2 separate regions of the Homo sapiens genome follow, and region 2 is linked to region 1. The links come from fine-mapping of genetic effects on gene expression. A gene starts in region 1. The other region holds a variant in brackets. All regions are shown on one strand. Distances are from middle to middle. Region 1 holds the start of CDC25B (cell division cycle 25B). Region 2 holds the start of AP5S1 (adaptor related protein complex 5 subunit sigma 1).

Region 1 (16,382 bases):
CCCAGGTGCTGTGGATGCCAATGGAAGAGGTTCTAATGGAGACCTAACAGCACTGAACATGGGGAGGGTCCGTGTACTGGGGACTGACACGCGGCCCTTAGATTTCGAGAAAAGACACCGCTAGAGACTTGGAACTAAATTTTCTGAGGGTGGCAGTAATGGATGTGGGGTGGACATGAGGCTTGATAGGCAGGACAGTGAGGGAGATGGGAGGCGGGTACCATGCACAGTGAAGTGGGGCTGAGGTCAGCTCTAGGCCATCAGATGGGACAGAGGAGGACCTGGACTTGCACCCCTGGCCATCTCAATGGTGCCAGCACCTGTGAGCCTGGGCAGGGAAGGCCAGGGCAGACACTAGCTGGCTGGGCGGAGCTGGGACTCACATGCGGGGCCCACGCTCAGATGAGAATTCACAGTGGAAAATGAGGATGACTCTCTTGTCCAGGCTACAGGGCGCGATGGGGCTCTTCAGTAGGAAGCTCTCGGCGTCGCGTTCCAGGGGCAAGTTCACCGCAGTCTGTCAGAGGAGCCAGAGGTCAGGCACAGCCCCGGGTCCAGGAGTCAGGGCCCTCCCCGTGCAGTCGCTGTCCTTCTCTTAGTAGGAACCCTCCCCATGAGAGGGGGCACCCGTCCTCCACCCATTCACCCTCTTGGCAAAGCAAGGACCTAAACCAGGTGGGATCTTCAGGGCCTCTCCCCATTGCCCCATCTTACCTTGATGTGCCCGCCTTCATATTCATAGGGGTATCTGCAGTCTACAATCACAAACTTATCCACGATGTTGCTGAACTTGCCCGTCAATAGGGCCACCATCTGTAGGAGGTCATGGGGGTTGGTTCCGGCAGGTCAGGCTGGCAGCTGGCAGGTGGCCCTAGCCTGTCCCCAGGGAAGGTCAACAATGGAGCTACAGTCCCAAATCTGCCTAGAAAATGACGCAACGCTGTTTACCGTTTCTGGTGAGATGTACTTGAGGTCTTGGTGCTTTCCGTCTACTGTCTGTAGGAGGAAGGCCTGAAGGGAACGGAAGGGATGAGGGAGAGGGGAGAAAGTTAAATTGGTAAGACCAGGAGCCTCAAAGAATGAAGTTTCATTCCCAAAATCAGAGGCCACACCTGCTTTGGCCTTCAAATTCAGTTCTGGTTCCCATGGCAACTGAGAGGCACCTCTTGGGTCTGACACCCAGGGAACAACCTTCCAAGGGGAAAGAGAAATGAAAAAGGGAAGTGGAAGAGATGAACTCCACACTCTGCTCCCTACCCTCTGCCAAGCCCGAAGGTGAGGCATGAGGGGGTTCCAAGCTAGGTATGAGCTTGGAAATAAGACGGAGACTCAACAGATGCCTGGACTGACTTGAGGTGGAGTCAGGAGACAAGGAGGGCCAGAGGGAGGAGTCTATGTGAGAACAAAGGATGAAAAGATACAAAGGACAAAGAAAAGGGGGGCTCCGGGGAGAAAGGGAGGAACCCAAGCAGCCCCTGGGCTAGAGGACCCCTAGTCAGTAAGAGGTCAAGCCCCCAAGGTACCCCCTTCGCTGCTGCAGGTACCTTAGAGTAATCTCCAATCAGCTCTCGGTGGTCACTGTCCAGGAGGTTCTCGATCTCATCGTGACACAGTGATTTTGAGCGGAGGACGCGGGCTTTCTGGAAAGTGAGTCAGATGGAGGCCAGGGTCAGGGTGGGGCTGCCCCCCAGTGCTCTGGCTGGCTGGTACCCCCTTTCTCTGCCATGCCCAGGCTGCCACCTGCCCTCTGCCACAAACTTAGCCAAGGGGGTGGCTGCCCAGGTGCATGCCAAAGTGAACCCCAGGAGGAAGGCACTCACAGGTTCCTCAGCCTCCTGCTGCTCCTCAGGAGGGGTCACGCTCCGCCTCCGCTTATTCTGCACGGGCGTGTCCCTGTCCTGGGGCCGCTCCAGCCTCTTGAGGATGGGCCGGATCACGCTGCAGGGCATGGACGGAGAGCGGAAGAGCCGCTGGCACTTGCTGTACATGACGAGGTCCTGGCAGGGACAGCAGGTTAGGGATCAGGGTGCCCAGGCCCCGTCCCATCCCTCAAATCCACTGGAGAGTAGGATGGACCCCATGCCTCCAAATTCGGAGGGGGCCACCCCAGAGGCCCACCTTTTCCTCTTCCTTTTCCAAGGTCTTGACCAGTGGGGCACTAATGAGACTCTCCATGCCTGGGGGAACTGCATCATCATCCTGAGGCCAGATTAGCAAGGACAGGGTCACAACCCACAGGCATAGGCCAAACCCCTCCAGTCCCGGAATCCTCCAGCACAGCCTTCCCTGTTTCCCTGGCAAACTCCAGGTTGGGGTGAGAAGCTCCCCTACCTCCCAAACCGCCCTCCACTGTGGCACCAGCCACCTGTTCTTCTCTCATTGGCCAGAGGTTAGGCTGTGACTCAGTTACCTCAGATTCTTCTTCTGACACTGGAATGACATCATGGTCCTGCCACAAGGGCTCAGAGCTCTCTTCTTTTGGGCGAACCCAGGGATAGGAAGGTAGGGGCCTGGTGGGACAAGGCTGTTTACCTTTAAGTCACTCTCTAGGATGTCCACAAATCCATCATCTTCCTCAGTATCCCCCTCTGCAGGGGTCAGAGAGAAGCGACCTAGGGCCAGGGGGCTGAGCTCCTCCACTTCCATCTTCCGGTCAGGACTGAGACACTGTCCACATGACAGACAGACACAGACTTAGAGGTGGAGATAGTTCCCGCCCCCATCCTCCTGAGGAAAAGTTCCCAGTGCCTGGGGGTTCAGGGCCACCCTCCTCTTCTCCGAGGCTGCCTCCCCAGGCCCCTCCCAGGGATCCGCTCTCTGGATGTACCATCAGGTCGGGGGCCGAGCTGGGTCTCTGGGCAAAGGCTTCCCTGCGGCTGGCCCACTCTGCCAGAGCATGGGTGGAGCTGGGATGTGTGGGCTTCCATGGCATCTTGAAGACAAATCCATCCTGCAGCCAAGATGGGAGAGGAGGGTCCTCACATGCCAGGGAACCACCCCAGCATGCCCCCTCCTCTTCCCGGAGAGCTCCCACCCCGGCCTTCCAGAAGCGCACATTCTCCTTGTCTTCCCCAGAGCTGCTGGCAGCTCCACTGCCCGCCTCGCTCTTCCTCCGGCCGTCGGGCGCCTGGGAGTTGGTGATGTTCCGAAGCACGGGGCTGTGGCCCAGCAGCCTCACCTAGAGAGCCAGGCAGGGCGGCAGGCAGAGGAATGAAGGCTGCATTCCTCCGGCACGAGCCCAGGCCCTACCTTCTCCACCTCTCCTCCAGCTCCTCCCACTTACCTACCTACCTCTGAAACCCCATCTCCTACAGCCTGCCTGGGGACACCCAGCTGGGAGGTGATCCCTGAATGCATCCTGCTCATCTACCCCATGCCTGGCTAGCATGCCTAAGCCTCAGTCAGGCCTCGAAGACACTCACCGGCATAGACTGGAAGCGTCTGATGGCAAACTGCTCGCTACAGGAGGAAATGGGGACAGGTGAGAGCTGGGAGAGGCAGGGCAGGGACCAAGAGCATGCAGCATGCCCTTCTGGAGCCCTGTCCTAAGGGAAAGCTTGTGGTAGATGGAAGAGGCCCAGGAACACTTACTTTCGAATGATCCGGCTGGCTGCCTGGATGGCCTGTTCAAACCTAGGACAGAGAAGGGTCCCATGCAACCCATGCTCCCTCCGCACCCATCACCCACCCCAGCACCAGGCCCCCAGTCCAGGGGGGAGTAAGGGCAAAGACAAGGGCCAAGGCTCAAGGCAGTGGAAGGGGTGGGGTGGGAAGAACGCCCACCATCAGGGGGCCCAGGTATTGGGGAGGGGGAAGATAAGAGGCAGCTTGGAATTTTAAAGGCTGCCCTGAATGAAAGAAAGCCCAGAGAATGGCAGTGATAGAGACAGCTGGGGCAGGTCAGGGTCAGGGAGGCGTCACCAAGGCAACAGTCTCGCCAGCCTGCACCAGGCCTTCCACCTGTATGCAAATCACCTCAGCGGGGCCATATGGCTGCCAGGAAAGGCATCCATCCATCCTATGATAGGCCAGGGGCACCCAGCAATGTGGGTGTCTCCAGGGCCTGGACAACAGCAAGGCTAGGCTTCCTCTCCCCTGTGAGGAGCTGGCCTGGCTCCCGGTCCTCTGAGGACTGGGGCCTGCTTTAGGGCTCCCCCAGTCAGCTCCAGTCTGATACAGTAGACCCCCAGTGACAAACGTGCAGGCTCACATCCTCTCCTCCCTCCTATGGAATTTTCCAGGACCAGCCTCTGTCCCACCCCCTCCTCCTGCCTTAGAAGAGGCCAGCAGGCAAGGAATTCCAACACATGTTCCCTCTGAGGCCCCGCCCCCTCAGCCGTGTTACAGGAGACCACCTGCCACGCGGAGCTTTTGTGCATCTACGCGCGCGCGCGCACACACACACACACACACACACACACACACACACACACACAGCTTCTGAGAAACTCTGTATAACTGTCAGAGCAGGTGCAGGGCAGGGAACCACTCAGGGATAAAGTATGAGGGGGATGCCCCCCCGGGGGGCTGCTGTGCCCAGCCAACCTGGCATCAGGGATGACCAATTTCATTGGCTTGCACATGGGCCTTGGGGGTAGGGCAAGATTGCTCTGTGCTGCCACCAAAACCAACCTGCAGTCCCCCAACCCCACCCAATCCTCTCCCCATTTCCTGTTTGTGAACCAATCTGCAGCCCAACCCAGTCTGATCAAAGGCAATGGGAGGTAAGACAAGTCACTATCCTAAACCCAAAGCCACAGTCCCCAGCACAGGCCAGAGATGCCCAGCTGTCCCTACTAATGGCTGGCAGCTGCCCCGCTGCTTGGGCTTTAACAACTGGATGGGAACAGCTGTGCTCTGGAAGACACCACCCATGCCCACAGCCAAGGGGATGGTCTGTCCAGGCCAGAGCCCACCAACTCTCTCTCCATTCCCTTGCAGAAAGGGCCTAGACCAGGGCTGGCCAGAGGGTAAAGTGTCATCGAAGTCAGAGGTTGCTGATCGGCCAAGAGCCAAATCAATCTGCAGGCAACTGTGTTTTGTTTGGCCTAGAGTGAGTTAAAGTTTTGAATTAGTTGGATCATATTTTTAAATTGTAATATTTCACAGAAAAAAATGGGTATAGGCAAGAAAGAAAAACGGGACATACGCTGGGCTTGTATTCCTGCAAGACATGGGCTGTAGTCTAGTATCTGCTCTCCCAGTGGCCACTGTCCCCACTATCCCTGGCCCTGAGCCCACACTCGGTTGGCTCCCATGAGAGCAGATCCTTCTCTGAGACAGGGAGCAGAATGCCAAGGCCTGAGAAAGTCAGTGAGCCCCCCGGCCATGGGGATCCTGAAGCCACCCCATGGTCTGTCTGCTTTCCCAGGCCTCCCGGGTGAATTTATGGTAGAACTAGGATTCTTAAAGACAGGTGCTGAATGCTTGGAAGTACACATTCCCTTCTCTACTCACGTCTGCTCCGCCATGTGGGGGTCCATAGGGCTGGGGGAATCCATGCAGAGACCTGAGGGGACAGAGCACCTTGGTTTGAAAGTAGTGGCACTTTCTGTATTCTTTCCCCCACCATGTCCCAATATGAAAAAAAAAAAAAAAAAAAAAACAGTTTCTAGTTTGGACTTTGACACATTAGAAAATGAAACAAAAACCCAACCATGGACCCTGAGAGCTGACACATCGTCCCCCAGACGGTACAGGGCTCCACTCCCTGTTTACTATGGAAATTCCTTCATATGCGTCTTTAAACCACAATGCTCACTAAGCATTTTTCTTGAACTGGTTTAAAATAATTTGTTCTAGAAGAGACAACAGATTTTTAAAGAAGAGGTTATAGGCTAAGAATGTTTTAAAGACCAACTCTCAGCCCTGGGTGCTTCCCAGGTAGGGTTGTGGTTTAGGAACTCTGGAGCGTGGTTTTACATAGGTAAGATCTCATCTCCGTAGAGGGCCCCACCCTCTCATCCACTCAGCCAGTCCGCGTTGGGTGTGGTGAGCCCCACAAGAGGTGTGTCTTCCTCCCATTTCTGTGGAGGGTGGGGGAGAGGCTCCTGGGCCCACCAGGTTGTGGGGAGGATGTTAGTTTGATCGGCAGGGAAATTGGGAGGCCCAGGCAGCCCCCACAAACTCTCCTGACACAGGCAGATCTCCCCAGGCTCCCCTGGGCCTCACCTGCATCAGAAGATTCGGAGGATTCAGACGACAGGGAGGATTCGGATGCCCGTCGAGACAGGGATAGGTGCGTCAGGCGGCTGCGGCTGCGGAAGAGCAGGGTCCCTACCTGACTCTTTGGGGTTTCGCTGGGAAGGGAACAGGGACCCGGGAAAGGAGAAAGGTAAACGTGGGGCTCAAGGCCTGGCTAGCCCACGTTCCCACTCCCTTGCTGAGAAAAGAACTGAGCGAAACACTACACCGGGAAAGCAATGGCCCTGAGGGCCCCCTCTTCTCAGGTCAAGGAAGGTTCATTCTACAGAGGCCCTAAAGCGTCTTCTCTTCGTTGACTGGTTTAGGAAAGGTCCTCTCAGGAGCAGGGCAAGGTGAGCCCAGGGTGTGAGCAAGGCTGCCTGGCTGGAGGCCAGCCTAAGGGTTGGTGGTCTAGCAGAGCCGCCCCAGAGAGCCTTCCCCTAAACTGTCAGACCCCCACCTTTCCAGGACCCTTCCTGAAGGATGGACCAAGACCAGGTTCTCCTACTGGAACAACCCAGCTCTCCCCTTGCAGACTTAGGGAGCAGGATCAGTGTTTAATTAATTGTCTTAATTCTGGGGGCAGAACTGGGGTGGAGGGAGCAGGGGCATGGATGTGTGAGTGCTCCACGGCTCTGCCACCCTTAAGTTCCCTCTCCAGGCTTGAGATTCCCATCCTGGGGCAAAATGGTGGCTATCCGGGCAGAGATTACGGAGGCAGCGTGGTGGAGGCACAATGAGGGAGGAGGGAGTGAGGGGAAAGAAGATTTGGAGAGGCTTGTGCAGACTGAGAGCAGGTCACCTGGAGGTGTGGGGGGCACAGCCCAGGTCTCACTTCCCATGTCCTGGGCCCCTAGGAGGGAACAAGGGCGTACCTCTCCACTGCTCAGGATGCCTCCCCGGACTCCACCTCCTGGATTCGACTACCATGCCCAGTTCTCCAGGAGGCCCAGGACTCCAGACCTAGCCTCTCACCCCCATATGCAGCCTCCTTGGGGTGTCCTACCTGCCGAGCCCGGCGAGGTCGTGCATGGTCTGGGTGAGGGTGGTGACCGGCGAGGAAGCGGCCGCCCGCACCGGGGACCCCAGGAGGCCATGAGATCCCAGCAGGAGGCCCGGGAGGTGGCCCGGACGCTGGGCGCCACCGCACACGCCTGCTGGACTGAGAGCCGAGCCTGGCGCGGGCTCCGGCTGGGGCACCTCCATCGCGGCGGGGCCGGCAGAAGGCTGGCTGGAGGGCCGGGCGCAGGGCAGCCAACAAACGCCGGCACAGCTGGCTGGGCCGAGGGAGGCAGCGGGCGAGGGGTGGGGGGGGGGGGAAGGAGGGAGGGAGGAAGAGCCACAGGGCCAGGCGCGAGGGAGGAGAGGGATGCGGGGAGGGCGGGGGGCGAGGGACGCCGGGCTCAGGCACCAGCCAGGGAAGCCTCTAGTTGCAGCTGCCACTTCCACCTCCTTATATATTCGAAAAATAACAGCAGCCGCGCCGCCGGACGCCACCAATGGGGTAGCGGGTTAGATGAGGGCGGGACTGAGGGCGGGGCCCGCAGGGCAAGAGGCGCGGAGGCTGGATTTCCAGGCTTTGGGTGGGCCGGAGGAATTAAGATTTATCCCACACCCTCGCACATCCCCCTGGCGCGAGGATCCCGGCCTCCCAAAATCCGCCTCTCGCGACATGGTTTGGAGCTCCACACTCCCAAAGGCAGCAGCAACGCCCTAGGGTGGCCTCCGCAGGACCCCCCGCGGCATGTCGTCACCTGGGATCACCGCTAGGGATGGGGAGAGGCTCCAACTGGCTCCCGGAAGTTTGCTAAACCCAGCTGGGCTGTACGGTCTGCGTTAGACACCCCATTTTACAGACCTGGACGCTGAGGCGTGAAGTTCATTAACTCAATCAAGGTCACGCGGTTGGGCAGGCGGTGGGCCAGGATTCGCTCGCTCCAGGCGCCTCTGACCGCGCAGCCTCCCCGCCTCCGCGACTGGCTGCGCTGAGCAGCAGCAAAACGTCATTCGCAGGAGAAGCGCCCAGCGTAGGAGGTGGGAGGGCAGTGGGGCCCCCAAGCGGAACTGATGGGCTCTTTCGCGGGACCCCAGGTTAGATGTTACCCCAACCGGCCCAATTTTCGCGGCAGCCCCAGGAGAGGCTCTAAACGGTGGAACTAGGAATGGATTTCCGCGGCTGGGGGTCGAGGAGGGTGTCAGCAACCAGAGAGGCGAATTAAGTATCACGCCCATTGATGATTTGGCTAACTTGGTGCCAATGGCACCATATTATTTAATTGGTGTTTCTTTGATGACCAGACCAGGGAGGCTGAATTTGTCATTCGTTTTAAGCGGAGCAGCTTCCAATTATCTTTCTTTTTGTTTTGTTTTGTTTTTTTTGGGATGGAGTCTCCCTCTGTCAACCCGGCTGGAGTGCAGTGGCCATCTCTGCTCACTACAACCTCCGCCACCCGGGTTCCAGCGATTCTTCTGCCTCAGCCTCCCGAGTAGCTGAGACTACAGGAGCGCGCCACCACGCCCAGCTAATGTTTGTATTTTTAGTAGAGACGGGGGTTTCACCATATTGGCCAGGCTGGTCTCGAACTCCTGACCTCGTGATCCACCCACCTAGGCCTCCCAAAGTGCTGGGATTACACGCACGAGCCACTGTGCCCGGCCCATCTTCCAATTATCTAAATGCCTTCCAGCCCCGCTCGTTTTCCAGGCCTCCTGGAACAAGAGGCCTGAAGGCTGCACCCAAAAGCCGGTGGGTAGTGAGCAGCTTTCGCATCCTGTCTCCCCAGGTTAGAAGTGGCCTCTGGCTGGGCGGGTGGTGGTGCGGGGGGCGGGCTGCAGCTCAGCAAGGCAGGAGTACCCCTTCTCGTGCAGTCCCAGCCACCCAGACCCAAGGTGCATTGGATGGGGGTGGCAAAAGGGAGGGCCTGGTGATGGGGGGCTGGGTGGGCCAATGCATCTGAAGGGTAGGGGAAGACCCCAGCCCCACCTGAGAGGGGTGGCCAAGGTGGGAACGTGACCTTTCCTTTTCTCCAAATTTTGCCCAGCTCCTGTGCTGTGCAGAGGGCTCTGCAAGACTGAATTTCCGGTTCATCCTCCCTGGGTCAGGGGTTATGCCCTGGACCTCCAGCCACTACTTCCAGTGAGGATGTGACTGCCCTTAGTGCCAGGAGGGAAGGGGGAAGTGTCCTTGTAAAGCCACCCAGCCCAAAAACCAGAAAAAAAAAACTGCCCCGAGATTTGCATTTTCAAAATAAACACAACAGGTATCCCCCCCACCCCCCACCCAGCCAATATACATCTGCACAGGGTGTATGTGGCAGGGCAGGCATTATACTATTGAATCCCTTGAAATCCCACAGTCAAAAAACACATGAAAAAATGCTCATCATCACTGGCCATCAGAGAAATGCAAATCAAAACCACAATGAGATACCATCTCACACCAGTTAGAATGGCAATCATTAAAAAGTCAGGAAACAACAGGTGCTGGAGAGGATGTGGAGAAATAGGAACACTTTTACACCGCTGGTGGGACTGTAAACTAGTTCAACCCTTGTGGAAGTCAGTGTGGCGATTCCTCAGGGATCTAGAACTAGAAATACCATTTGACCCAGCCATCCCATTACTGGGTATATACCCAAAGGATTATAAATCATGCTGCTATAAAGACACATGCACATGTATGTTTATTGCGGCACTATTCACAATAGCAAAGACTTGGAACCAACCCAAATGTCCAACAATGATAGACTGGATTAAGAAAATGTGGCACATATACACCATGGAATACTATGCAGCCATAAAAAATGATGAGTTCATGTCCTTTGTAGGGACATGGATGAAATTGGAAATAATCATTCTCAGTAAACTATCGCAAGAACAAAAAACCAAACACCGCATATTCTACTCATAGGTGGGAATTGAACAATGAGAACACATGGACACAGGAAGGGGAACATCACACTCTGGGGACTGTTGTGGGGTGGGGGGAGGGGGGAGGGATAGCATTAGGAGATATACCTAATGCTAAATGACGAGTTAATGGGTGTAGCACACCAGCATGGCACATGTATACATATGTAACTAACCTGCACATTGTGCACATGTACCCTAAAACTTAAAGTATAATAATAATAAAATAAAAAAATAAAATAAAATAAAATAAAATTCTCTAAAACCAAAAAAAAAAAAACAGAAATCCCACAGTCAGGTCACCTCTGGGCCAGTGAGGGGGGAGGTGGGCAAGACCACAGAGGGGTTCTGGGTTTTTTTGTTTGTTTGTTTGAGATGGAGTCTCGCCCTGTCGCCCAGGCTGGAGTGCAGTGGCATGATCTCGGCTCACTGCAACCTCTGCCTCCTGGGTTCAAGCGATTTTCCTGCCTCAGCCTCTCGAGTACCTGGGATTACAGGTGCCCGCCACCATTCCTGGCCAATTTTGTATTTTCAGTAGAGACAGGGTTTTGCCATATTGGCCAGGCTGGTCTCGAACTCCTGACCTCAGGTGATCCACCCACCTCGGCCTCCCAAAGTGCTAGGATTACAGGCGTGAGCCACTGCGCCTGGCCCACATACATAATTTAAAATATTCTAGTAGCCACATTTAAAACAGTAAAAAAGAAACATGAAATTACTGTAATATTTTATTCAATGTAATGTATTCAAAATATTATTCGACATGTTATCAATATAAATTAATGAGATATTTTACATTTTTGGATATCAAGTCTTCAAACTAGTATGCATTTTACACCCCCAGCACATCTCAATTTGTACTTGCAACATTTAAAGGGCTCAATAGTGCTGGCACTGTGGCTCACACCTATAATCCCAGCAACTCCAGAGCCTGCTGCAGGACAATTGCCTGAGGCTAGTAATTCAAGACCAGCCTGGGCAATATGGTGAAACCTTGTCTCTACAAAACATTTTTTAAAAACTTAGCCCGGTGTGGTGGCCCCTGCCTATAATCCAAGTGACTCGCTGGGCACGGTGGCTCACACCTGTAATCCCAGCACTTTGGGAGGCCGAGGCAGGTGGATCACAAGGTCAGGAGTTTGAGACCAGCCTGGCCGACATGGTGAAAACCTGTCTCTACTAAAAATACATACATTAGTTTGGCCTGGTGGCACCGACCTGAAATCCCAGCTACTCGGGAGGCTGAGGCAGGAGAATCGCTTGAACCTGGGAGGCGGAGGTTGCAGTGAGCCTAGATCATGCCATTGCACTCCAGCCTGGGCGAAAAGAGCAAGACTCCGTCTCAAAAACAGACAAACAAACAAAAAATCCAAGTGACTCTGGAGGCTGAGGTAGGAGGATAGCTTGAGCCCAGGAGTTTGAGTCTGCAGTGAGCCATAATTCCACCACTGCACTCCAGCCTGGGCAACAGAGTGAGACTTTGATTCTAAACATAAAATAAATAAATTAATAGTTCAATGGCCACTTAGGGTTAGTGGCTGCAGGTCTATATCTTTACAAGCGTAAATCCGTCTGTATTTTAAAGAATATACAAACAGCATATGAACATTGTTCTAGGCTGGCATGCTGGCTCACACCTGTAATCCCAGTACTTTGGGAGGCCAAGGTAGGTGGATCACCTGAAGTCAGGAGTTCAAGATCAGCCTGGGCAACATGGTGAAACCCTGTCTCTACTAAAAATACAAAAATTAGCCAGGCATGGTGGCATGTGCCTGTAATCCCAGCTACTTGGGAGTCTGAGGCAGGAGAATCACCTGAATCCAGGAGGCGGAGGTTGCAGTGAGCCAAGATCGTGCCACTGCACTCCAGCCTGGGTGACAAAGTGAGATTCTGTCTCAAAAATAAATAAATAAATAAAAATAAAAACCACTGTTCTATACCTTTCTTCTTCTTACTTGGAGATGGATCCATATTAGTACCATAACAATATATATTTACTCAAGCCCCTAATGCTGAACATTTAGGATATTAGCTTTTACAACGATGCAGTAAGTATGCCCTTATGTGTCTGTGTGCTATCTACAAGATGAATTCCTAGGGAGGAACTGATGGGAGGCACAGCATTTAGTTTGTTTTCTGTTTTTGTTTTGAGTCCAAGTCTCTCCGTCACCCAGGCTGGAGGGCAGTGTTAAATCTCGGCTCACTGCAACATCTGTCTCCTGAGTTCAAGCAATCCTCCCACCTCAGCCTCCCAAGTAGCTGTGACTACAGGCGCATCCCACTATGCTTGGCACATTTTTGTATTTTTTGGAGAGACTGGGTTTTGTCATGTTCCCCAGGCTGGTCTTGAACTCCTGGGCTTAAGCGATCCACCAGCCTCAGTCTCCAAAAGTGCTGGGATTACAGGCATGAGCCACCACACCCAGTAGCATTAAGTATTGAAATCTCCTTTTCCCTTTCTTGAATCTCATCTCAAGCTGACTGGACTATTGAAGGACAAGGACTAAATCATTTACCTCTCTCCCAGGCTCCCAGAACCTTGCTCCCAGAACTTTGGTTCAAGACCAAAGTTGGCCCCTGACCCTAATATCCCACTTCTCAGCATTTCTCTTAAGGAGATGATAAAAGTACACACAGATGTATGTTCGTTGAGTTATTGTCTTCAATAGGGGAGGTGATTCCTTTGCACTGTGCAATACATGCAACCTTTAAGGAGAACGGGCAGTCAGGTGGGGATGCCTGCTTGGTAGGGGCTCATTATTGAAAGACTACATGTTGAGATCATAGCAAATGGACTTCTGAACAAGTTTCCTAGAGTAAAAGAAGTGTGGGTGGTGGCTCATGCCTATAATCCCAGCACTTTGGGAGGCTAAGGAGGAAGACTCGCTTGAGCTCAGGAGTTCGAGACCAGCCTGGGCAACATGGTGAAACTCTGTCTCTACAAAAAATACAAAAATTAGGCCAGGTGCGGTGGCTCACGCCTGTAATCCCAGCACTTTGGGAGGCCCAGGCAGGTGGATCACCTGAGGTCAGGAGTTTGAGACCAGCCTGGCCAATATGGTGAAACCCTGTCTCTACTAAAAATACAAAAATTAGCCAGGTATAGTAGTTGGCGCCTATAATCCTAGCTACTTGGGAGGCTGAGCAGGAGAAATGACTGAACCTACGAGGCAGAGGTTGCAGTGAGCTGACATTGCACCATTGCACTCTAGCCTGGGTGACCTCGTGATCCACCCGCCTCGGCCTCCCAAAATGCTGGGATTACAGGCGTGAGCCACCGTGCCCAGCCCGAGATGTTAACTTTTAAGCAAATCTTTTTTTTTTTTTTTTGAGACAGAGTTTCTTGAACCTGGGAGGCGGAGGTTGAAGTTGAAGTGAGCCGAGATTGAGCCACTGCACTCCAGCCTGGGCGACAGAGTGAGACTTGGTCTCAAAAAAAAAAAAAAAAAAAATTCCAAAATGGACTGTGGTGACAGTTGAGCACATCTGTGAACTGTACACTTTAAATGGGTGAATTGTATGCTTCTTGAAATATATCTTAATAAAACCTTTTTTTTTTTTGAGACAGAGTCTCACTCTGTCACCCAGGTTAGAGTACAGTGCCGTAATCTCGGCTCACTGCAATCTCTGCCTTTTCTTTCCTTCCTTCTTTCCTTCTTTCTTTTTCCTCCTTTCTTTCAAAACAAAGTTTGTTACCCAAGCTGTAATGCAGTGGTGCAATCATAGTTCATTGCAGCCTCATGCTCCTGGGCTCAGGTGATCCTCCGGCCCACCCCAGCCTCCCTAGGAGCTAGGACTACAGGCGCAAGGCACTATGCCTAGCTAATTTTTTTTTTTTTTGAGACAGAGTCTTGCTCTGTCGCCCAGGCTGGAGTGCAGTGGCGCGATCTCCGCTCACTGCAAGCTCCACCTCCCGGGTTCACGCCACTCTCCTGCCTCAGCCTCCTGAGTAGCTCGGACTACAGGCGCCCGCCACCATGCCCGGCTAATTTTTTGTATTTTTAATAGAGACGGGGTTCCACCGTGTTAGCCAGGATGATCTCGATCTCCTGACCTCGTAATCTGCCCACCTCGGCCTCCCAAAGTGCTGGGATTACAGGCATGAGCCACCGCGCCCAATGTTGTTCTCTTTATTTTTATTATTTATTATTATTTTTTGGCCGGGTGAGGTGGCTCACGGCTGCAATCCTAGTACTTTGGGAGGCCAAGGTAGGCAGATCACTTGAGGTCAGGAGTTTGAGACTAGCCTGGCCAACATGGTGAAACCCTGTCTGTACTAAAAATACAAAACTAAGCCAGGTATGGTGGTGTACACCTGTGATCCCAGCTACTCAGGAGGCTGAAGCAGGAGAATTGCTTGAACCAGGGAGGAGGAGGTTGCAGTGAGCTGAGATCACGCCACTGCACTCCCAGCCTGGGCAACACAGTGAGACTCCGTCTCAAAAAAAAAAATTAAAAATTAGCCAGGCATGGTGCCTCATGCCTGTAGTCCTAGCTACTGAGGAGACTGAGGCTGCAATGAACTATGATCGTGCAACTGTACTCCGTCCTGGGTGACAGAGCTAGACCCTGTCTCAAATAAACAAAAGGAGAATGGAAAGCTTGCTGAGGGGCCTGAAGGACAGCTCTGGGCAGGCTGGACCAAAAGAAGAGAAGGTGAGTTATGGATTTCCCAAACAGTCCTAAAAGCAGAAAGCTGGGACTTACAGAAAGAGGTGGGGAAGCCCGGGGCCTCAGATGGATTGCTGGGGGAAATGGTCACTTGAGAGGGGATGGAAATGGGCCCCGTGCACTGCTACAGGCAAAGGGTAGACGAGGTATCTGGAAATGGCTATGACATCAGCATATGATGGGCGTGGCTTTTCTGTCCTAGAAGTAATTGTGCCAATGCCCTTTGTATGGCACTAAGGAGGGGCCACAGGAAAGGAAAGGAAAGGAAGAGAAAGGAAGGAAGGAAAGAAAGAAGGAAAGGAAGGAAAAGAGAGAAAGAGAAAGAAAGAAGGGAAGGAAGGAAGGAAAGAAAGAAGGAAAGGAAGGAAAAGAGAGAAAGAGAAAGAAAGAAGGGAAGGAAGGAAGGAAAGAAACAAGGAAAAGGATGAAAGAGAGGAAAGAAAGAAAAGATGCATGGCAAGGAGTTCTCATCCAGGTAATCTTAGATTCATTTTTGCCCAGTGACCACACACTCCTCTTGGGCCAAGCAGTGCTCTGGAAAAGTCTCCCACGTGTTCTTTTGGACCTTGAGATTAAAAGAATATCTTTTATATCTCAGGGATAGGGAAGTCCTCTCTAAGTAAGACACAAAACCCCGAAGCAATAAGGAAAAAATTGACAGGTTGAAGATTAAAAACTTCTCATATCCAAAAGATTCCCTAAACTAACTTAGACAAGTGGCAGACAGGGAGAAAACATTTGCAACATACTTAACAAGATCTTTTCTTCAGAGCATGTAAAGAGCTCCTAAAAGTCAAGAAAAAGACAAACACATGGTCAAAGGATATGACTAGAAAATTCACAGGATTCAAATGGCCAAGAAACATACGAAAACAGAAATTTGCACTAAAACAGCAGTGAGTTACACTTTCTTCCTTTGGCTTCCAGAATGCCACAGTAGCCTGGTTTTTCTCCTGCTTCAGGGGCTCCTCCACTTCAAGAGTCTCTATTTGGTTCTTTCTTTCTTTCTTTCTTTTTTTTTGAGATGGAGTCTCACTCTTTTGCCCAGGCTGGAGTGCAGTGGCATGATCTTGGCTCCCTGCAACCTCTGCCTCCCAGGCTCAAGCGATTCTCCTGCCTCAGCCTCCCGAATAGCTGGGACTACAGGTGAGTGCCACCACACTTGGCTAATTTTTTGTATTTTTAGTAGAGACGGAGTTTCACTATATTGGCCAGGCTGGTCTTGAACTCCTGATCTCAAGTGGTCCCGCCTGCTTCGGCCTCCTAAAGTGCTGGGATTACAGACGTGAGCCACTGCACCTGGCCTCTTTCTTGAGCCCTTAACCTTGGAGGACCCAGGGCACTGTCCTTGGTCCTCTTTTCTTCTTTGTCTACACTCACCCACAGCTTCATCCAGCCCCAGGTCCTCAGCCTGTCCCCCTGGGTCACAGCCTTCCCCTCTGCCAATGCTGGAGTTCCCCTTAGTGCTGCCCTAAGAGATTTTTAAAAACACAGCTATACATTCATTGTTTTAAGAGCTTGGCATTTTAATGTTTTGCTGCAGGAGAGGGAGGCTTCAGGGATTCACACTTATGTATATACATGATGTTATTTCTGTAAGTGCAAACACATACATTTAT
Region 2 (16,382 bases), 29 kb before region 1:
CTCAGCCTCCCGAGTAGCTGGGACTACAGGCGCTCACCACCACACCCAGCTAATTTTTTTGTATTTTTAGTAGACACGGGGTTTCACTGTGTTAACCAGGATGGTCTCGATCTCCTCACCTTGTGATCCGCCCGCCTCAGCCTCTCAAAGTGCTGGGATTACAGGAGTAAGCCACTACGCCCAGCTTTTTTTTTTTTTTTTTTTTGAGACAGTTTCACTCTGTCACCCAGGCTGAAGTGCAGTGGCATGATCTCAGCTCACTGGACCTCCACCTCCCAGGTTCAAATGATTCTCCTGCCTCAGCCTCCCAAGTAGCTGGGATTATAGGCATGTACCACCACTCCTGGCTAATTTTTGTATTTTTAGTAGAGACACGGTTTCTGCCATGTTGGCCAGGCTGGTCTCGGATTCCTGACCTCAGATGATCTACCCACCTTGGCCTCCCAAAGTGCTGGGATTATAGGCATGAGCCACTGTGCCCAGCCAAGTGCAATCTGATATTAAAACCACATTACCCACTTTGGAAGGCCAAGGTGGGAGGATTGCTTGAGCTCAGGAGTTGAAGGCCAGCTTGGACAACATAGCAAGACCCTGTCTCTACTAAATATTTAAAATTTAGCTGGGTGTGGTGGTGCATGCCTGTGGTGGGAAGATCACTTAGCCAGGGAGGTCCAGGCTGCAGTGAGCTGTGATCACACTACTGTACTGTAGCCTGGGTGACAGAGTAAAGACCTTGTCTCCAAAAAAAAAAAAAAAAAAAAATATATATATATATACACACACACACACACACACCACACACACACATATATATATAGATATATATATATGAAGAAAAAAGTTAAAGATTGACACTGCCTGACTTCAAGACTTACTATAAAGTTACAGTAATCAAGATAGTGGGCCAGGTGCAGTGGCTCACGCCTGTAATCCCAGCACTTTGGGAGGCCGAGGCGGGCAGATCACAAGGTCAGGAGATCAAGACCATCCTGGCTAATACGGTGAAACCCCGTCTCTGCTAAAAATACAAAAACAAAATTAGCCAGGTGTGGTGGCGGGCGCCTGTAGTCCCAGCTACTCAGGAGCCTGAGGCGGGAGAATGGCGTAAAGCTGGGAGGCGGAGCTTGCAGTGAGCCGAGATTGCGCCACTGCACTCCAGCCTGGGCGACAGAGTGAGACTCTCTCTCAGAAAAAAAAAAAAAAAAAAAAAAAAAACCTTGAAAAAAGATAGTGTGGTGGCCAGGCACAGTGGCTCATGCCTATAATCCCAGCATTTTGTGAGGCTGAGGTGGGCAGATTACCAGAGGTCAGGAGTTTGAGACCAGCCTGGCCAACACGGTGAAATCCCATCTCTAACAAAAATAGAAAAATTAGCCAGGCATGGTGGTGCATGCCTATAGTCCCAGCTACTAGGGAGGCTAAGGCGGGAGGGTGGCTTGAACCTGGAAGGTGGAGGTTGCAGTGAGCCAAGATTGCACCATTACACTCCAGGCTGGGTAAGAGTGAGACTCCATCTCAAAAAAAAAAAAAAAAAAAAATAGTGTAGTATTGGCAAAAGAATAGACAAACAGATTAATGGAACAGAATAAAGAACCCAGGAGAGACCCACATTAATACAGTCAACTGGTCTCTGACAAAGGAGTAAAAGCAATACAATGGAACAAAGATAGAAAGACTCTTTTCAAGAGATTATGTTGGAACAACTGAACATCCACATGCAAAAACATGAATCTACACATAGACCTTACACCCTTCACAAAAATGAACTCAAAATGGATCATAGACCTAAATGTAAAATGCAAAACTGTAAAACTTCTAGTAGATAACATAGGAGAAAATCTAGATGATATTGGATTGGTGATGACTTTTTAAATACAACAGTAAAGGCAGGATCCATTTAAAAAATTGACAAAGAGCTGGGCATGGTGGCTCACGCCTGTAATCCCAGCACTTTGGGAGGCCGAGGCGGGTGGATCACCTGAGGTCGGGAGTTCGAGACCAGCCTAACCAACATGGAGAAACCCTGTCTCTACGAAAAATACAAAATTAGCCAAGGGTGGTGGCACATGCCTGTAATCCCAGCTACTCAGGAGGCTGAGGCAGGGGAATTGCTTGAACCCGGGAGGCGAGGTTGTGGCGAGCCGAGATTGCACCATTGCACTCCAACCTGGGCAACAAGAGAGAAACTCCGTCTCAAAAAAAAAAAAAAAAAAAATTGACAAACTTCATTAATTTTTTTTTTTTTTTTTTGGAAACAAAGTCTTGCTCTGTCACCCAGGCTGGAGTGCAGTGGCACAGTCACAGGTCAGTGCAGCCTTGACCTCCTGGGCTTAAGCAATCCTTCGACCTCAGCCTCCCAAGTAGCTGGGACCACAGGTGTGCACCACACTCAGCCAATTTTTATATTTTTTTGTAGAGATGAAGTCTCTATGTTGTACAGGCTGGTTTCGAACTCCTGGGCTCAAGCAATCCTCCTGCCTTGGCCTCCCAAAGTGCTGGGATTACAGGCCTCATGAGCCACCTCGCCCGGCCCACTTCATTAAATTATATGAAACTGGACTTCATTAAATTTAAAAAGCTCTGCTTTGTGAAAGACACTGTCAAGAGAATGAGAAGACAAGCCACAGACTGGGAGAAAATATTTGCAAAAGGTATATCTGATAAAGAGCTGTTATCCAAAATACACAAAGAACTCTTAAAACTCAACAAAAAGAAATCACCCAAACAAGTTGCCTGTTTTAAAATGGGCAAAAGACTTGAACAGACACCTCACTAAAGATTTACAGATGGCAAGTAAGCATAGGAAAGATACTCTACGTCATGTTATTAGGGAACTGCAAATTAAAACAAGATTTCACTACATACCTATTAGAATGGCCAAAAGCCAGCCGGGTGCAGAGGCTCATGCCTGTAATCCCAGCACTCTGGGAGGCTGAAGCAGGCAGATGACTTCAGGTCAGGAGTTTGAGACCAGCCTGGCCAATATGGTGAAACCCTCTCTCTTCTAAAAATACAAAAATCAGCCAGGCGCGGTGGCGTGTGCCTGTAGTCCCAGCTATTCAGGAGGCTGAGGCAGAAGAATGGTTTGAACCCGGGAGGCGGAGGTCGCAGTGAGTGGAGATTGTGCCACTGCACTCCAGCCTGGATGACAGAGCGAGACTCTGTCTCAGAAAAAAAAAAAAAAAAATCAGCCAGGCGTGGTGGCACACGCCTGTAATCCCAGCTACTCGGGAAGCTGAGGCAGGAGAATTGCTTGAACCTGGGCAGTCAAGGTTGCAGTGAGGCGAGATAGTGCCACTGCACTCCAGTCTGGATGACAAAGGACACTCCGTCTCAGGAAAAAAAAAAAAAAAAAGAATGGGCCAAAACCAAAACAGTGACGAAACCAAATGTTTCAGAGGATGTAGAGCAACAGAAACCCTCATTAACTGCCAACAGGAATGCAAAATGGTACAGCCACTTTTGAAGACAGTTTGGCAGTTTCTTACAAAATGAAACATACTCTTACCACAGAATCCAGGACTCATATTCCTTGGTATTTATGAGTATTTATACTCCCAAAGGAGTTGAAAACTTATGTTCACACAAAAACCTGTACACAAATGTTTGTAGCAGTTGTATTCATAATTGCCAAAACTTGGAAGCAACCAAGATGTCCTTCAGTAGGTGAACAGATAATGTACATCCACATAATGGAATACTATTCAGCAGTACTTCCAAAATGAGCTGTCAAGCTCATGATTCAGCCATGAAAAGACTTGAAGGAATCTTAAATGTACATTACTAAGTGAAGGAAGTCAATCTGAAAAGGCTACATATACAGTATGAATCTAACTACACAACATTCTGGAAAAGGCAAAACTATGGAAGCAGTAAAAGGATCAATGGTTGCTAGGGGTTGAGGGGAGGGAAGAATGAACAGGTGCAGCAGAGGACTGTTCGGGCAGGGAAACTCTTCTGTATGATACTATAATGGTAGATGCATGTCACTGAAAATACATCCAAACCTATAGAATGTACCACCCCAAGAGTGAACCCTAATGTAAACTATGGACTCTGGTGATAGTGACGTGTCAATGAAGGTCCATCAGTTGTAACAAATGACCACTCTGGTGCCCAGTGTTGGTGATAAGGGAGGCTGTGCATGTGTGGGGACAGGGAGTAAATGAGAACTCTCTGTACCCTCTGCTCAGTTTTACTGTGAACCTAAAATTGCACTAAACAAATAAAGTATATTTAAGAAAACGGTCACGGCCACTTGAATTGCAGTAATAAACATACAGAGACTTGGTTAACGGGTCACAGAGTATTGAATCTGACAAACACGGTTAACTGCATTACAATAAAATATAGGAATAATTGTTTAAAAGAAAAGATTGAGGCCAGGCATGGTGGCTCACACCTGTAATCTCAGCACTTTGGGAGGCCAATATGGGTGGATCACCTGAGGTAAGGAGTTCGAGACCAGCCTGGCCAACACGGTGAAACCCTGTCTCTACTAAAGATACAAAAATTAGCCAGGCATGGTGGCACATGCTTGTAATCCCAGCTACTTGGGAGGCTGAGGCGGTAGAATTGCTTGAACCCAGGAGGCAGAGGTTGCAGTGAGCCAAGATTGCACCACTGCACTCCAGCCTGAGCAACAGAGTGAGACTCCATCTCAAAAAAAAAAAAAAAAGAAAAAGAAAAGAAAACATTGAGCCCTGGGGGGATGCTGGACAGTGCGCAGCACCACAGGGCTAGAAAAAAACACCCTGCCCTAAAGGAGACAAGATGATCCAATCCCATCCCAGGGCTCACATACATGCAGTGTATGTGACCCAATCAGTGACCCACATACATGCAGGCCAGTTCCTGCCTTAAAACCTGTGACTTCATGCCAGTCAGTCGTGGTGGCTCACGCCTATAATCCCGGTACTTTGAGAGGCCACGGCGGGCGGATCACAAGGTCAGGAGATGTAGACCAACCTGGCTAACACGGTGAAACCCCGTCTCTACTAAAAATAGAAAAACTTAACCGGACGTGGTGGCAGGCACCTGTAGTCCCAGCTACTTGGGAGGCTGAGACAGAATGGCGTGAATCTGGGAGGCGGAGCTTGCAATGAGCCGAGATTGCGCCACTGCACTCCAGCCTGGGCAACAAAGAGAAACTCCGCCTAAAACAAAACAAAACAAAACCTGTGACTTCTTCCTCCTTCCAGGTAAGCTCTCTTCTCTGGGCTCTACTGCCCTCCTGTCATCATCTGTTGTCCCAGGAGTGTTTGTGGAGGTACACTGGTAACACTACTAGCTGCTCAAAGTCTCTAGTTCTCTCAAGAAGCTGAGGGATATGTGGTTTGGCCAGGGTTCCTGGGGCAGGGAGAAGAAAGGGAAGAGGCTTGGAGAGGGAGGCAAGTTTGCTTCCATAGCCATCTCACTTTTAGTTCTAAATCCTGGCTCCTTCACTTGGCCTTCGTCACTGAAGTGCCCCTTCTTCCTTTAGGTGTTTAAAGCACTTGTGAGCAGCAATTCAGGGATGCTCAAACCATTGCTGCTTTGCAGTCATCTGCAGTCACCTGGCCTTAGCTCTGTCTCTCCTGGAACTTTGGGGTCATTCTGTATCCTGCATTGCACCCAGCAGAGCATCAGGCCCAAGGGAGGCTCGATAAATATATGGTGAGCATAAATTGTGGTGGAAACCCAGCCCAAGAGGCTGGGGCAGAAGTGTGAAGTGTGGGAAGGGTGCTGGGCAAGCTCATCTGGTTAAGAAAACCCTGGTCCAGCTGGACAGGAACTGGAGCTCAGCAGCCCCACGGTGTGGTCTCAGTCTCTACTATTCTCTTGTCCATCAGTTTGCCCCACCTCATGAGAACCAGGCCACCAGCCACGCCTAACCTCAACTTCCCACAGCTCCCAGGGGAGCAGAGTCTCAACCTCTTCCTTAAGTTCCGTTTGAAAAAAAGGCAGAAAGAATTCAGATCAGTAAGCTTGAGCCTTTCCATAGAGGACAAAATGGCCTGTTCCCTGAGAACACAGCCAATCCACCAGGACCGCCAGCCTGGGGTGAGGGGTGGGCCAGGAGAACAGAATGTATAGGGAAGGGGTGTCCCTACTAGAGGCCTGTGGGACATTTCCACTGGTGGGACTTGGCCACACACACAGAGTAACATCCCTTTAGGTCTTCATGGTCAAGGTGGTTTGTGGCACCATAAAATGGAAAAGGTGGCCTCATCCCAATTATGTTGACAGTGGTGGTAGAAGGCCTGGCATGGCTGGTGGCCTTGGCCATGGACTTGGAAGGGCTAATCATCAGTGCTGCCTCCAAAGTGGGTGTAGTTGGGTCCATCCTGGATGCTAAAGGGCAACTGATGGATGGCAAGCATGAGAGCTGAGCACCTAGGAGGCTCGTTCTGCCAAGAAAGCCTCACCTTCCTTGGTAACAGGAAGATCATGAAAATCAATGTAAACTGAAGTGGTTTTTCCCCCACCCCCCGCCCCCAACTGAGTAAGTTTAAACCTTCACTAGAAGCTGCTGATTGAAGACCTCCTAACCACCGACTTTTGGTACCCCACCCATATCCCTTTGGGACTCAACATGGTGCAGGCAGGCCCAGCTCCACATTGCCTGAAGGCTTTTTCTCAGGGGCAGAAAGAGCCAGGGAATGTATGCACCCTGGGATCAACCTGTAACCACTGACTAAAGGCAGTAGGCAAACACCCACAGCCGCCACCTCTCAGGTGAGGTAATTCAGAGGCAACTGCTGTGTGCAGCCCCCTAGAGGCACTCAGCTCCCTACCACAGTCCTAATAGGCTTGACAAGCATTCACGAGGACTGTGTCCCCTTCCTGCTTCCCGGGATCACCGCCCACCCCACATAAACCACTCGCACCAATTCTCAGCCCAAGCACTGCTTCTCAGACGGCTCTGCCACAGCCACCTGCCACCTGTGACATATACTTTGGTGGAGAAATGTGTGCCACCATCCAAAGGAGGCCTCTAAGGAGACAGAGGTGAGGTGGGGATGAGAGATGGAGGCATCCCAAGAAGCCTCCTAGGGGGATCCTTGACCACGAAAGCTCAGACACGCAGCTTTGGGGCCATCCAGAGAGGCACTCACTCATAGGAGCAGGATGCACGCATCAAACTCACAGAAAGAGGGTAAAATCACACAGCCAGTGCTTTTAATTCAAAACGAAAAATATGTCATCCAGGCTAGACTGCTCACATTCATCTGACAGCAACTTCTCTCCCTGCAGATGAGGGAAGGCTGTGATGACTTTATCTCGAGCCTGCCTGGTGGGAACGGGCTTGGCACAAAAGGAGCTGCAGAATCCTGCTGCTGATTGGCAGATGCATTTCTGAACTCAGCGGGGGCTGGACACTGAGCAGGACCTTGTTGATAATACTGCCTAAGTGGGCACAAAGCCAGGGGCTGTGGCCTGCCAGCATGCAGGCACAGCTCCTCCACCCTCAGGGGAGTCTGAGACCCCTTTTGTGTTTCGATGACTGTGGGATTTTTTTTTTTTTTTT[G/TTTTTTG]AGATGGAGTCTCACTCTGTTGCCCAGGCTGGAGTGAAGTGGCGCACTCTCGGCTCACTGCAAACTCTGCCTCCCAGGTTCAAGTGATTCCCATGACTCAGCCCCCTGAGCAGCTAGGATTACAGGTGGGCGCCATACACCCAGCTAATTTTTGTATTTTTAGTAGAGATGGGGTTTCACTATGTTGGCCAGGCTGGTCTTGAACTCCCGACCTGAGGTGGTCCAACCACCTCAGCCCCGCAAAGTGCTGGGATTACAGGCGTGAGCCACCGCGCCTGGCCTTGACTGTGGGTTTGGAAGAAGAGCGGGGTGAGCTCCAGGCAGCTCCTCACCCTAGCACTATCGGCTGGCAGGGATGGAGGAAGGTGGGTTCAAGGACAAGCGTGGCTGCCGCACGGCAGCGGTCTAAGTAACACAGCAGCTCTAGGCTCAGGAAGTTCTGTGGTTCCACTAACCTGAGGACAGGCAGGACCTCCTCCACCCTCTGCCCAGCCCCCTTTCTGCAGGCTTGTGTCACCCACTTGTCCTGGTATAGCAGCACATCAGAGCTGCTGGGTAGGAGGGAGATGCCAAGCTTCATCTGGCTGTGTGTCTACCCTCTGCCTGCCCTCAGAAGCACCATCCCAACGAGGAATCAGCGGGGCCAAGCGGCACTGAATTCCTTCTCCAGGCCTTGGACAAACTGGTCGTTGAGGAAAAGCAGCTGACCATGTGGCAGGAAGCGGGTGAGGATGCCCTCAATGCGGTCAGCCCGCAGCAGAAGGCTGGTGCTGGGCGCCAGCAGCCGGAGGTGGTCAAGGAGGAGGCGTGTCAGCAGCCGGAGCGTGCCCTCAGCCAGTAGCAGGTTCTCATGGGCATCCAGCACCAGGGCAAAGCCTAACGAGAGCACGCCCAGCCACACCACCGTCCGTGGCTCCTGGAAAGGGTTCTCTGCTGCCAGGCGGAAAGCCCCACGTGGGGCCTCGTGCAGCGGCACTTGCTCATCTGAGGATTGCGGCTGCAGGTCCATGGGGGGCCGGCCAGATGCCTGCTGCTGCAGCCGACACATTGACTCTACCTGCCTGGGGAGAGTGGGCAGGTCAGGCTGGTGGGCTCACACACCAACTCTGTCATCCTCATGATCAACCCTGGTGCTGGGAGCTACCATCATCCCCATATCTCAAGTGAGAAAACTGAGGCCTAGAGAGACTAAGTGATCTGCCCAGGGCCACAGAATCAGGAAGTGTGAGCCTCCAGGTCCTGAACCACTTTATTCCATGTGGCCAAGAGGGCAGGTTTTCAACCCAGCTCCTTGGGCTGAAAAAGGGCACCAGAGGAAGAAGATCCTGCCCTCACCTGCTTCACAGAGGCCTTCTCCACATAAAGGAAAGGGAAGCGGCTTGGCCAGGCGCGGTGGCTCAAGCCTGTAATCCCAGCACTTTGGGAGGCCGAGGCGGGCGGATCACGAGGTCAGGAGATCGAGACCATCCTGGCTAACATAGTGAAACCCCGTCTCTACTAAAAATATTTAAAAAAATTAGCCAGGCGTGGTGGCGGGCGCCTGTAGTCCCAGCTACTCGGGAGGCTGAGGCAGGAGAATGGCATGAACCCAGGAGGCGGAGGTTGCAGTGAGCCAAGATTGCGCCACTGCACTCCAGCCTGGGCGACAGAGCAAGACTCCATCTCAAAAAAAGGAAAGGGATGAGGCAGAAAATAAACGCCATCACCCAACGTGGGCAGTCCAATCTCCACCCTATCCTGCAACCCTCTCCAAATATGAAAGAAAGACCTTCCATTGGACCAACAAGGCTTCTTAGAAGCTCCCTTTGATCTTTCCTGAATCACCTTCCAGTCTGAGCCACGCACAGGCTGGTTTTAAAGGCATGTATTTGGTTTTCTGAGCTACAGGGAGGGGAAGGAGAATAAGAAGAACAAGGGAAAGGCAGGAGTTGGCAGAAGGTTGCCCCAGAGTGGTGCTACCCCACCCAGAATGCGGAGGTCCAGGAGGCTCCAGCACCTACCAGTTCTGGCTGGGTCTGAGAGGGGAAGAGCCAAGGCTAGCCACCCTAGTCTGGAACAGTATATTCCAAACTGTGATCTGGATCCCTGGCTTTCTGGAGTCCTCATGTACCACATCCTCTCTCTTCGTTAGAAATTCATAAAGTCTACAGGCACACTAAAGGCCCTGTTAAGTACTGCACTGAAAAGCATGTTTAATCTGTACTGTCTGCCTGCCTACTCTCAAATCTTAGTTCTGCTACTTTCTAGCTATGTAACCTTGGACAGGTTAAATTCCTCAAACACTCTATACCTCAGTTTACTCATCTATAAGGTGGAGATAATAACTATACCTACCTCAAAAGACTATTATGAGGATTAAATGAGTTAATATATATAAGATGTTCAGAATATAAATGCTTAGCACTTACAGGCTGAACAAATGCTAATTATACTAATAATGATAACAGAATTATTATTTATTTAACCCTTTTCACGTAACACTTATGAAAAGCTGTGGAAGACTCTCTGGGAAATGCTACTCTAAAACTTCCTCTCTGCTTCTTAGTCCTCCTATTTCTCTGCGTCCCCACTCCCCGAAAATACCTATTACAATCAGGTACGTGTTCAATGAAGGCCTGGGGCTGGGCTGTGTGGTTACCTGGCCACAGCTAAAATCTGTTCCTTCCGGAGAAGCCTGTCCCTCTCGGCACCATGCGGCCGTGGGTCATCAGGTGACTTCTCAGCACCGAAGACGCAGGAGTACAGCACTCGGCAAAGGCCCGTGTCCTCAGTATTCGGGGCCCTCAAGGTGTGAATGAGGAAGGCGTGGACCATGGCTCCAGGGTGGGTGCTACAGGGAAGCCAGAGACATTGGTAAGGTGAGAGTGAACCCCAGCAGGAGAGGCGACCACAGGAAGGGGCTGACCTGGCAGTGTCTGGGAGTGTATCCAGAGGCCAGTGAGGCTGAACACTTTGAATAACAGCATCTGAACAACATCACATAACAGAATCCAGTGATAAAAAATCTCAGACATACATAAGCAGAATAGGCATAAACTAAAAAAAAAAAAAAAGAAAAAAGAAAAACAAACAAACAAACAAAAAAAATCTCAGACCACCCTAAACCTAGTTCTACAAAACAACAGGTATCTTCAAAAGCGTCAAGGTCATGCGGTCATGGAAAACCTGAGGAGCTGCTCCAGACCGAAGGAGACTGAAGAGACCAGATAGCTGAATGCGACGTGTACTCCTGGATCGGGTCCTGGACCAAGAAAAGGGTAATTTGGGCCAGGTGTGGTGACTCACGCCTGTAATCCCAGCACCTTGGGAGGTCTAGGTGGGCGGATCACTTGAGGTCAGGAGTTCCAGACCAGCCTGCCAACATGGTGAAACCTCATCTCTACTAAAAATAAATTAGCCGGGCATGGTGGCGCATGGTTGTAACCCCAGCTACTTGAGAGGCTGAAGCCACAGAATCGCTTGAACCCGGGAGGGGAGGCTGCAGTGAGCCGAGATCGCACCACTGCACTTCAGCCTGGGCGACAGAGGGAAACTCTTGTCTCAAAAAAAAAGAAAGAAAAACAAAAGGATAATTTCCATAAAGGGCATTATTAGGACACTAATAAAAACTTTAAAAACATTTCAATATGGACTATGGGTCAGAAAAAGTCTTGACCAATGTTACCCGATTTTGAATGCAGGAGCTCGTCCTTGTTTTTAGAAAATAAACACGGATGGGCCTCTAAATATAGAGGAAACAGGATTTCATATCTGCAACTAACTCACTTGGTCCAGGGAAGAAAAAAGGCAGAGAGAAAAACAGAGGAAATAATAAGGTAAATGGGGCAAATGAGGTTACAACTTGTGAATCTCATCCAAGTGCATACAGGAGTTACCTGAAACTGTTTCAAAATAGAAACTAAATAATAGTAATGGTTATCTGGCTGGCTCAGTGGCCGGCCCGGGGGTTGAAAGGCGGCGGGTACACAGTCAGTGGGTATCTGTAGCTAAGGCTAAACAGACCGTCAGTTTAAACTGGTAAAATAGCAGGTTCGCAAAGGCACTTCGAGAACCGGAGCCCAGCACCCAATTGCTGACCTCCGCAACCCTCCAGCCGCCAGCAGAGCGCGTCATCACTCCGCGCCGCCGCGTCCCGCCTCTACTAGAGAAATGGTAGCGGTCAAGACAGCTTACGTCACTGCCTCCGTAACCTTGAGGCGCAAGGCACTTCGGGGGTTGTAGTTTCTTACTCCGGTCAGCCAGGCCTAAATGGGGCACCCCGCCCTGAATGTGTTGCCCCTGCAGCTCCGGTCCGCTGTCGTCGAGGCGTCGCCTCAGCCTTCCGTCCGGGCCCGCGGACTGCCACCAAGCGCTCCCCTCCGTGGCAGGAGAGCAATGGCGGCTGCGCGGCCCGTGGGCGCCTGCGCACGTCGGTCGCGGGCGCGCGCGCCAGCTGACGCCGTCGGGTTGGGCGGAGCGCTCATGTCCAGCGCGGTGCTGCAGCAGCCAGGTGCTGGCGGCATATCCCGATGCTTGGACCCTCGGCGTGGGCTGGCCTTGCAGTCAAAACCCTCCGGCCCCGAGCTGCCGGCAGGGACCATGCTGGTCACTCTCGCTGCGGGCTCGAAGCGTCCCCCGCTCGTTGCCCTAGATCAGCGGAGCCCCAGGCTGCCGACCCCGGCGGCCGCGAGGGGGCGCCGCGGCTCGGAGCGCGGAGTCTGCGGAAAAGGCCGGGGCCTAGTTGTCCCCGGAGGGCGGGGCGCGTCGCCTGCGGCCTTAGGAGGCTCCGGGACGGGCGGCGGGTGGACCTAGGCCGGGCCGCGCAGCTACGGGCTGCGGCTGAGTTCTTATCTAGCCAACATGCGTGAGAATCACTGGGGCACCAGTTCAAATGTACATTCCTGGGCTGTACCCCCGGAAATTATGACTTTGGAGGGAAATATGTGTATTTAGGCACATGGGTATTTTGCGCGGATTTTAAATACAAATATGTGTATTTTGCGCAGATTCTGAATTTGTGGGTTCCTGCAGCGGTTTAATGCTGTCACTCGGTTCGGCGCAGAACGATTCGAACGCTGCTTCTGGACTCTCAGTGTGTGTCCCTGGCAGATCTGTCAATTTCATTGGGCCCCAGTAAAACCTTGTAGAGTGTCGCCCAGGGCGAACGCTTAGTAGGGCTGACCAGCAAGCCCCCTTCTTGACTGGAGGCCATCAAAACAACAGGGAAGAGGTTTATACCTTAAACCTGAAAGGGGCACTCTGGCGCTAACCCCTATAGAGCCTTACGTAAAAGCCCCAACTTGGAGGCTTGGCCCATTGGTGTTTGGGGGCCCCACAAGGCCTGCCTGGGCCTCACTGCCTGACTTGCATGTGTTCCTCCAGCCACCACCACCACTACCACCCCCACCGCGACCATGAAGCTGCACCTCCTTTACCTCTTGGCATGTGAATGGCTTCAGCCTTGTCCCCCAAATGTGCCTCGGAGCCTCCCCCACTGACTGTTCCCCCAGCCTAGAATTCCCTTTCCCGGCTTTTTTTTTTTTTTTTTTTTTTTTTGCAGCCTCGCTGCCCGCTCCCATCAGCAATGCTCCTACCTCAGCCCCCCAAGTAGCTGGGACTATAGGCAGGCAACACATCCAGCTACTTTAAATTTTTTTGTAGAGTTAGCGTCTCACTGTATTGCCCAGGCTGGTCTTGAACTCTGGGCTCAAGTGATCCTCCCGCTTCTCCCCCACAAATTGCTAGGATTACAGGCGTGAGTCTCCACGCCTGGCCTTTCCTGTCCTTTTAATTGACCTTGTAGATATATACTCAGACAAAATGGGAGGAAGCCTTCCTGCTCAGGCTGCCCGTTGGCATTCAGCTGCGGCCTTTGCACCCCTGTGAATCAGGTCTCACCAATAGTGCTGATGGCTTCCATCTCCACTCCCCAGGGCCATGCACAACACAGGACTGGAGCCGGCTTGAACACGCTCTTTGGTGACAAGAAAGGAGAACAGGGTAGGGTGGCCCAGGCAGGGATCCTAGAGCCAGCACCCCCTGAGAAAGTGCACTCTGGGCCCCTTAAGCCATAGGACCCAGGATAGGTTAGGAGGTGACTGAAGGGAAGCTGCAGGTGGCCAGGGCCTGGCCAAAGCATGTGACAACACGTAAATGTGTGTGCAGGTGTTGCGGCAAGCCCAGAGACTGTGGGGCCTCAGCTACGAGGCTGGGGAGTGATGTTGGCACAGCTCCTGGTCCCCAGTCCCTATTGCTCTCAGCCAGGGCTGGTGTCTGCCAGCTGATTACAGCAGAGAGCTAGCAAGGAGAGGGCTCTGGTTGCTGGGGGCCACCTGGCATCTGGAACACAGTTTCCCAGCCTCTGTCCACTCCTCAGGCAGTGAGTCAACACCAAGTTTCTGACCACTAGAGGGCTGGCCTCATGTGAGGTGTGTGGAGGAGACAGCTGTGGGAGGCTGGCTTGAGCTACTACTCCCAGAGGACAGTGGGAGACCCAGATGGAGGTGACAGCATGGAGGGCTTCCTCAGCCTACTGGGAGTGGGGGTTTTGCTTGATGGTTTTGCTGGAGGCTGCTTGTGGGTGTGCCCTGGGAGATCCCTTTTCCTTGGCCACTGGGCTCTCCTGGGTCCAACCCATGCTTCTGAGAGTCTGTTCTGGGTACATTGGGAATGTCTATGCCTGCTAGCTCAGACATCATCTAAAACAGCAAGCCCAGCAGTGGCTACTCATGCTGACCTCACTGCTCCATGACCCAGCAGCGCCACTCTTGATGTGTACCTGAGTGAAATAAGGGCTGTTGTTCACCAAAAGACACAAATAGAATATTCATAGTATCTTTGCTCTTTTTTTTTTTTTTTTTTTTTTTTTGAGATGGAGTCTTGCTCTTGTCACCCAGGCTGGAGTGCAGTGGCACGATCTCGGCTCACTGCAACCTTTGCCTCCTGGATTCAAGCGATTCTCCTGCCTTAGCCTCCCGAGTAGCTGGGGTTACAGGCACCTGCCACCACGTCTGTCTAATTTTTGTATTTTCATTAGAGACGGGGTTTCGCCATGTTGGCCAGGCTGGTCTCGAACTCCTGGCCTCATGAACTCCTGCCCGCCTTGGCCTCCCAAAGTGCTGGGATTACAGGCATGAGCCACCGCCCCTGGCCAGTATCTTTACTCTTAATTGTCCCAAACTGGAAACTACCCAAATATCCATCAGTTATGGAATGATGGATAAATTGTGGTATACTCGTACAGTGGAATAGTATAGGGCAATGGAAAAGAACAACTACTGATACACAACATGAGTGACTCTCACAGACACAATGTTCAGTGAAAGAAGCCAGTCACAGAAGTGTACATGCCATGTGACTCCATTAACATAAAAGGTCCAAATCTAGGCAAGCCATGCTGCACTGTTACAAGTCAGAATGGTGGTTATCCCAGGGAGGCAATGACTGGAGAGGCATGGAGCTTTAGGAGATGGTCACATTCCAAGTCTTGATCTGGGTGGTGATTACATGAGTATATTCTCTTTGTAAGTATTAACCAAGCTGGACACTTAAGATATATGCACTTTTCTATATACTAAATTCAATTAAAACCTTAACAATGGCTGTGACAATTCCACTAAAACGATTTTACTTTGAAGTCTGCCTTTAAACTGGAAGATAAGAATGGGATAGCCGGGCGCAGTGGCTCACGCTTGTAATCCCAGCACTTTGGGAGGCCGAGGAGGGTGGATCACGAGGTCAGGAGATCGAGACCACGGTGAAACCCCGTCTCTACTAAAAATACAAAAAATTAGCCGGGCGTGGTGGCGGGCGCCTGTAGTCCCAGCTACTCGGAAAGGCTGAGGCAGGAGAATGGTGTGAACCCGGGAGGAGGAGCTTGCAGTGAGCCGAGATCGCGCCACTGCCCTCCAGCCTGGGTGACAGAGCGAGACTCGTCTCAAAAAAAAAAAAAAAAAAAGGAATGTGATAGAATCCTTCCCCTGCCCCAAGGCTTGAATTCTGGCAGGGTTGAGGTTTTTAGCATGAGAAGAAATTTAGAGCATAGCCTTTCATTTAACAGATAACTAAGTGGGCTCAGAGATGCTCCCTGATGTGGCCAGTGTCTCACAGCATGGTGCCAAGTGGAAGGCACCGGGGACATGAGCTCTGCTCCCTGGAGCAGCCACCATGGAAGTAAGAGAGGTCGGGGGAGGACTGTACGTGGAGGGAGGACTTGAACAAGATCGCAAAGGATGGAGATGGCCTAAAAGTGAGAACACACCATTCATTTGTGTGCTCATCCACTCATTCTGCTGGGAAAATCCTCTGGGTGCTTAGAGTTCCCATCAGGCTCTGTGCAGACAGGTGCAATGGCCAAGGCAAGTAGGAGTCAAGATGGCCAACAGATTCAGAAGTGGGGAGGACTCTGGAGGAGCAATCTGGCAAGACTGTGTGGAGGAGGGAGCATCTGAACTGGGCTTTCTGGAGAGGTAGGAGTTCAGTAGCTGCAGATGGCAGGAAGGGCATTCTGGATATAAGGACTAGATCAGAGCAAATACAAAGGGTGAAAAGAAGCCAGCCTTCCCAGACTCAGGGTCCCCTGGCCCTCCTTTATTTAGAGGACATGAGTCCAATCAGAAATGCATCTGCATCCTCCCCAGCCGGTGGGGCACTGTAGGAGCCACCTGGGTGAGGCCTCAGGAAAGTCATTGTTTTCCAAATAAGGGGGGCAGACTCAGTGCCATTCTCTGACTTTTTGTGACCCCAGGGCCAAAAGCTGTGTGCTGAGAACAGTGAGGCAGGAAGGAGCCTCGGCCCCAGAGATGCTGCAGAGTCTACTTGTTGAGTGAGGTGTACAGACATTTATGTGGTTAAACCGCTGAGTGGGGTTTCTGTTACATGCAACTTAACGCCC

What was found.
Region 2: its variant is fine-mapped to the expression of CDC25B in monocytes (Fairfax 2014, PIP 0.95).

What each region holds. Positions count from the first base shown.
Region 1 is chr20:3,787,539-3,803,920 of GRCh38, reverse strand. CDC25B (cell division cycle 25B) reads right to left here and starts at 7,611. Exons shown (of 16, transcript NM_021873.4): 1 at 7,190-7,611; 2 at 6,172-6,299; 3 at 5,458-5,509; 4 at 3,592-3,633; 5 at 3,423-3,459; 6 at 3,056-3,178; 7 at 2,828-2,950; 8 at 2,533-2,667; 9 at 2,119-2,199; 10 at 1,821-1,997; 11 at 1,545-1,640; 12 at 949-1,011; 13 at 715-813; 14 at 384-517. The coding sequence starts at 7,389. RefSeq lists enhancers at 885-2,084, 4,165-4,459, 7,814-7,973, 7,884-8,615 and silencers at 3,125-3,419, 7,020-7,227, 7,294-7,473, 7,514-7,583.
Region 2 is chr20:3,816,060-3,832,441 of GRCh38, reverse strand. AP5S1 (adaptor related protein complex 5 subunit sigma 1) reads right to left here and starts at 11,895. Exons shown (of 3, transcript NM_018347.3): 1 at 11,684-11,895; 2 at 10,149-10,340; 3 at 3,604-8,571. The coding sequence starts at 10,324. The coding sequence ends at 8,145. RefSeq lists enhancers at 966-1,466, 11,512-11,851, 11,392-12,095 and a silencer at 12,092-12,371. The variant G/TTTTTTG (reference allele first, on the strand shown) is at 7,511.